Homo sapiens: one gene and its partner. The protein of the gene in region 2 purifies or fractionates together with the protein of the main gene of each other region. This does not show direct contact. Each region holds a gene or a part of one and is shown on either strand. Other genes may lie near its edges.

Region 1 (3,500 bases), on a different chromosome or scaffold from region 2:
AACTTGGGAAGTGGAGGTTGCAGTGAGCCAAGATTGTGCCACTGCACTCCAGCCTGGGCGACAGAGGGAAACTCTGCGTCATAAATAAATAAATAAATAAATAAAGTATGGTACACTTATAAAGCCTTCCTTTTAAAAGTCAAATTCCAAGTTAGGATTTTCCTAAGGAAATAGATTCCTTTTTTAAAAGACTTCAATATTTAAACATTACGATTGTCTATCTACAGGGTTGTAGATTTAAGTATTTTTCTGATACATTTTCATTATTTGTATTTCTACAGATTTTTTAGCAGTGAATTACTGCTAAATAGTAAAATTGGGATAGAACAAATAGATAAATTTTTCTTGTAGCCTTTACATTTCCAGTTATTTCACCATAGCATGTGCCCTTTCAATGTTAATATTCAAGCTTTGTAATTGATTTTACTTAAACTGATTAATTATCTCCTTTCTTCCCATCAAAGAAAATTATACTTCAGAAAACTTCCTATTATGTTGTGGGAATGAAGATGAATAATTTCCCAGATGTTATTTATGATTAAAAGATATGTTTACTTAGAGCTCCCAAATCCACAAGATTCACCTGGGCCAACAGAGTGTTGTTTTAGACTAGCATGGATTTAGAGGATAGGCCAGGGATTTTAATCTTTGTGAGCCCTATCTAAATTTCAATGTAGGATTCTTTTTTTTGGTGGGAGGCGGGGGGCAGGGTGAGGCAGGGTTTTGCTCTGTCTCCCAGGCTGGTGTGCAGTGGCACCCTCATGGCTCACTGCAGCCTCCACGTCCTGGGCTCAAGGCCATCCTCCCACCTCAGCCTCCTGGAATTTTTTTTTTTTTTAAAGAATAATTATCAAAGTCAGAGATACCTGTAGGTTTAAATGTTTAAATGTAATAGTTTCTCAAATTACTGTATACTAGGTGTAGAGTAGTGCTTTTGGAAATCAGTGATTTATTAGCCACACAGATTTTATTATCCCATATATATACGGTTTTGTAAAGATAAACATTGTTAATAAAATAAACTTATTTCAATACATTGCTTGTTTCTACTCATATTTCTTTCCTTTTGGACAGACACTCCTACAACTTTCTAACCCTTCTAAATTAAAAGATAGTAATTGATAAAAAAGTAATTTTAAGGTACTTCTCAAGGGAGTTATTTATTATAATGTATAAAATGTGTAAATTATGATTAGGCAGCCAGTGACAATTTTTTAGTGGAGATTGAATCTCATCTTTTTGTAAGGAGTTTATGAAGTCAGTGTCCTTTGAATATCATTAGAGTCAGTATGTACTGAAATGGATAATTTTGCGTGTCGATTACTCTTTAGTGCATCTTGAATACATCTGCATTCTAGATTACCAGGTTCTTCATAATATGTTGCCAAGTTACAGTGTATTTATTATATGAAGATTAGTAACTTCTGACTTTTGCCTCTTTTTTTAGCCATTGGGGAAAAGTTAGTGAAATATTTGTATTTTGTTTCTTTAGTCTTGAAATTTCAGTGAAAGCTGAAAAATGTATGATTTTAGTATTGAAAAATGACGGTCAATTGTGACAAACGTAAGATATACTGATAATTCCTTAAGGCAGGACACCAAAGGCATATAAGTAATCATAACAACCATAGACACTATGATAGCTCTACTGTGGGTTTCATTGCTTCCTAAAATAGGATGAATCAAGTTATAAGTGCTTAGAAGGTTTAGAAGCTTCTGGTAGCATGGAGCTTATGTTACAAGTATGCTTTAGGTCAGTGTTTTTAAAATGTTTTAAAAATGATCCATGATAAAAGTACATTTATGTGGCAACCTGTGATATACACAACGAAAATAAAGGATTCTCTAGGTGTATATATAAACCTTACTAGATGGGATGCATTCTGTTTTTTTTCATATTGTTACAACTGTTGGTGTTGAACTGGTAGAGTACGCACTAATGAGTCTCAGCTTGAGGTTTGGAAAATTGTTCTAGATGGTGTGTAGTTCTTGTAATTTAATGTTGCTTCAGGTTTAAGGTGGGCAGGCTTCCCCAAGTACTTGAAGGAGATTAAAAAAATTTTTTTTTAAACACTGCTGATGGCTCCACAGGGAAAATGTAAATAGTGAAACTTCATGTACATCTTGGACAAAATAACTAGGGTCGAACACTTTTAAATAGATATCTATTGTGGGATTGCTGACTTGTATGGTAAGTATGTTTAACTTTATAAAAAACTTCCAGACTGTCTTCCAAAGTAATTCTACCATACTGCATTCCCACCAGCAGTATATGAGAGTTCCAATTGCTCCACATTCTCATCAGCATTTGGTGTAGTGAGTCTTCCTAATTGTAGCCTTCATGGTAGGCGTGTAGAAATATATCATTGTTTTAATTTGCATTTCTCTTTTTTTGTTTTTGAGACGGAGTTTCGCTCTTGTCGCCCAGGCTGGAGTGCAATGGCATGATCTTGGCTTACCGCAACCTCTGCCTGCTGGGTTCAAGAGATTCTCCTGCCTCAGCCTGCCAAGTAGCTGGGATATGGGCATGCGCCACCATGCCCAGCTAATGTTGTATTTTTAGTAGACATGGGGTTTTGCCATGTTGGTCAGGCTGGTCTCGAACTCCTGACCTCAGGTGATTGACCTGCTTCGGCCTCCCAAAGTGCTGGGATTACAAGCATGAGCCGCTGCGCCTGGCCTTTAATTTGCATTTCTCTAGTGGTTAATGATGTTGAGTATCTTTTGTGGCTTTTGTTTTTGTCATCCATATAGTCTGGTTAAATGTTCAGGTTTACCTTTTTAATATTGTAAGAATTCTATAATTCTTTATATAACAGTCCTTAATCAGATATGTACTTTACAAATATTTTCTGTCAGTTTATGTCTTTTTCTTAACAGGTTCTTTTATAGTTCATACTTTTTATGTCCTATCTAAGAATCTTTACCTAATCCAAGGTAACAAAGATTTTTACTTTTTTTTTCCTGGAGATTTTATCTTTTTACCTCTTACATTTAGGTCTGTGAACAATTTCGAGTTAAGTTTTACATATGTTGTAAGAGTCAAGTTTCATTTCTTTGCATATTAATGTGCAATTGATCTAACAGTGTGTGGAAAGACTACTTTTTTCCCTTTGTTGAAAATCAATTGACCATAAATGTTTAAGTCAATTTCCTAGCCACATTCCATTGATCTAGCTTCATGTCTTTATACCGAGGATTGAAATCAGCTAGTGTGATACTTTAAACTTGGTCTTTTTTTTGAGACAGAGTCTTGCTCTGTCACCCAGGCTGGAGTGCAGTGGCTCGATCTTGGCTCACTACAAGCTCCGCCTCCTGGGTTCACACCATTCTCCTGCCTCAGCCTCCCGAGTAGCTGGGACTACAGGCACCCGCCACCACGCCCGGCTAATTTTTTTGTATTTTTTTAGTAGAGATGGGGTTTCACCGCGTTAGCCAGGATGGTCTCGATCTCCTGACCTTGTGATCTGCCCGCCTTGGCCTACCAAAGTGCTGGGATT
Region 2 (3,500 bases):
CAACCCCGCACCTCTCTCACACCACCATCTCCCACCCCAAAACCCGGGCCCCTCCACCAACCTCACCTCTCCCACCCCCATCCACACTGAATCAGGTTCTGCTTCCGCTTTCAACCCACCCCCAAAACGCGCCCCCTCCACCGACCTCACTCCTCCCACCCCCATCCACGCTGAATCGGGTTCTGCTTCCGCTTTCAACCCAAGAAAGCCGCAGGTGCCGGAATGTGATGCCACTGACTTGCGCATTGGGGGTTAGAGAAAAGCGAGCTGCTCTGTCTGACCAGCAGCTTGGGACTGGTGGAGGGAAGCGGGCCAGGCCCTGTGAGGAGTCAAGGTGAGACGCTGAGGGAGGACTCAGGAGGCCCCCACCGCAGATAGACAATCCCAAATAATCCCGAACCACTCATGCTCCCAGCCCTGGGCCACTCGTGGGGGGACTTCTGAGTCTGGGGCGCCCACCACCCCACTGCCTCTGAAGTCGCACGGGACTCTGCAGTCAGAGCTTGGGGTGATCAGTGCAAGACTGGTGAGGGCAGGCTCTGCCAGGCATCAACCTCAGGACTGTAAGAGAGGGCCGAGGGTCCCCCACCCCCATTCCCATCCCCCTTCCCATTCCCATCCACACTCCCAACCCCATCTACACCCTATCCCCCACCAGCACCCCTATCCTCCCCAAACCCCCACTACCCTTATGTCCTCATCCCCCACCCCAACACCACTATCCCCATCCAGGTTGAATCGCATTCCGTTTCTGCTTTCAACCCAGGGAAGCTCCAGGTTCCTGGATGTGATGCCAGTGACTTGTGCATTGGGGGTTAGAGAGACGCTAGCTTCTCAGTCTGACAGGCAGCTTGGGATTGGCAGAGGGAAGCCGGTCCAGGCTCTGTGAGGTGGCATAGTGAGAAGCTGAGGGAGAAGTCGGGAGGCCCTCTCCACCCCAGATAGACGACCCCAAATAATCCGGCACCCCTCCTGCTTCCAGTCCTGGGCCACCCGTGGGCGGACTTCTGAGTCTGGGACGCCCACCACCCCACTGCCGCTGAAGCCGCAGGGGACTATGGAGTCAGAGCTTGGTGTGATCAGTGCAGGACTGGTGGGGGTAGGCTCTGCCAGGCATCAACGTCAGGACCCTAGGAGAGGGCTGAGTGTCCCCCACCCCCATTCCTATCCCCTACCCCTTTCCCATCTGCACTCCCTACCCCATCTGTACCCCCATTCCCCACCTGTGCCCCTATCCTCCCCAACCCCCCAACCAGCCTCATACCCCCCTCCCCCACCCCTACCTTCATCCCCATCAGCGCAGCATCCGGTTCCACCCCTGCTTTCAATCCAGGCAAGCCCTGGGTGGCCGGATGTGATGCCACTGACTTGTGAATTGAGGGTTAGAGAGAAGTGAGTTTCTGGGTCTGAAGGGTGGCTTGAGATCGGCAGAGGGAAGGTGGCCCAGGCTTTGTGAAGAGGCAAAGTGAGACTCTGAGGGAGGATTCAGGAAACCCCTATCCCTGATAGAGGGTCCCAGCCCTGGACTACCCCGCGGAGGCTGACTTCTCAGACTGGGCTGCTCCCCACCTCCGCCCCCTTCGCAACGCGTTTGTTTAAGCCACAGGGGACTCTGGAGTCAGAGGTTGGTGTGATCAGGGAAGGGCTGGTTAGGAGAGGGCATGGCCCAGGCCCTGCCAGGAATCAAAGTCAGAAACCTGAGAGGGAACTGAGGTCCCCCAAGATCCTAGTCTAACCCCCACTCCCACAAATCCGCTGCCATTTCGCTGCTCCATTTCCCATTCCTTGCCCTCCACCCTCACCAGGCAGAATCCAGTTCCCCTTCTGCTATCAATCCAGGGAAACCCCAGGCTTGGTGCTGGGATGTTTTTTGGGGGTCAGAGAATCAAGGGCATAGTCCTGAGGGGCCAGTTGAGATCGGCTGAGGGGAGCGGGCCCAAGCTCTGTGGCGAGGCAAGGTGAGACTCTGAGGAAGGACTGAGGAGGCCCCCACCCAAGATAGAGGAACCCAAATAATCCAGCGCAGCTCCTGCTGCCAGTCCTGGACCACCCGGGGGAAGACTTCTCAGGCTAGGCCATCCCAGCTCCCACTGCCACTAAAGCTACAGGGGACTCTAGAGTCAAGAGCTTGGTGTGCCCAAGGCAGGGCCCAGGCTCTGCCTGGCATCGGGGTCAGGACCTTGAGAGGGAACTGAGGGCGCTACACCCCCACCCCATCCGCATTCCAACATGCCCAGCCCCATCCCCAACTCCGTTTTGCAGAATCCATTTTTTCCCCTGCAGTCAACCCCGGGAAGACCTGGGAATGGTCAGGCACTCGGATCTTGACATCCACATCGAGGGCTGAAGGAGGGAGAGGGTTTGGTATCATGAGCAGAGCCTCAGGGTAGCAGAGGGAGGACCCTGGCCCTCCTGGGAGATGAGGAAGGCCTCAGGAGACCCAGCACCCCAAGGCAGGGAGCCCACCCCACCCCGTCTGAGAATGAGGTGCCTCCTCTTTTAGCCTCAGGAATCCAAGGGATGGCAACTCAGGTCAGCAGAGGGGTGGGTTCCAAGCCCTTCCAGGATCAAGGAAAGGAAGACGAGGGAGGATTCAGGGGGCCTTGCATTCCAGATCAGTGGAGACCTGGGCCCTGGGAGGTCCTGGGCAAGGTAGCCACCTGTAGCTCATACTTCCTGCATCTTCGAGGTCACAGAGAGGAGAGGGCTATGGTCTGAGGGGTGGTACTTCAGGTCCGCAGAGGGAGGAGTCCCAGGATCTACAGGACCCAAGGTGTGCCACACTTCACGAGGAATGGGGATACCTGTGGCTCAGAAAGACGGGACCCCACAGAGTCTGGCTGTCCCCTGTTCTTAGCTCAGGGGGGACCAGAGGAGGGATGGCCCTATGTGCCAATTTCACTTGTTCCACAGGCAGGAAGTTGGGGAACCTTCAGGGAGATGAGGTTTTGGAGTAAAGGGGCAATGTTTGCTCATCTCAGGGGGTTGGGGGTTGAGGAAGGGCAGGCCCTGTCAGGAGCAAACATGAGTACCCCACAGGAGGCCATCAGAACCCTCACCCCAGAACCAAAGGGGTCAGCCCTGGGCACCCCACACAGGGGTGACAGGATGTGGCTCCTTCTCATTTCTGATTCCAGATCTCAGTGAGGTGAGGACCTTGTTCTCAGAGGGTGACTCAGGTCACCACAGGGACCCCCATCTGGTCTACAGACACAGTGGTCCCAGGATCTGCCAAGAGTCCTGGTGAGGAATGTGAGGGAGGATTGAGGGTACCACAGGGCCAGAACGCAGATGATGACCCCACAGAAATCAGCCCTGCTCCTGTTGTCACCCCAGAGAGCATGGGCTTGGCTTTCTGCTGAGGTCCCTCTCTTATCCTGGGATCACTGGTGTCACGGAGTGGGAGGCCTTGGTCTGAGGGGGCTGCACCCAGGTCAGTAGAGGGAGGGTCCCAGGCTCTGCCAGGAGTTGAGGTGAGGACCAAGCAGGCTCCGCATCCA

What was found. The genes of interacting proteins can lie anywhere in the genome.
Region 1: the proteins of MAGEA4 (region 2) and DCAF6 purify together in Homo sapiens (affinity purification with mass spectrometry; 4 studies listed by BioGRID and IntAct, with this or other methods). This does not show direct contact.

The regions. Positions count from the first base shown.
Region 1 is NC_000001.11:167,939,683-167,943,182, forward strand, and holds part of DCAF6 (DDB1- and CUL4-associated factor 6), read left to right. Parts: intron 1-3,500. UniProt on the Homo sapiens protein: Ligand-dependent coactivator of nuclear receptors. Enhance transcriptional activity of the nuclear receptors NR3C1 and AR. May function as a substrate receptor for CUL4-DDB1 E3 ubiquitin-protein ligase complex.
Region 2 is NC_000023.11:151,919,389-151,922,888, forward strand, and holds part of MAGEA4 (melanoma-associated antigen 4), read left to right. Parts: intron 1-204; exon of another isoform or gene 205-334; intron 335-3,137; exon of another isoform or gene 3,138-3,243; intron 3,244-3,500. UniProt on the Homo sapiens protein: Regulates cell proliferation through the inhibition of cell cycle arrest at the G1 phase. Also negatively regulates p53-mediated apoptosis.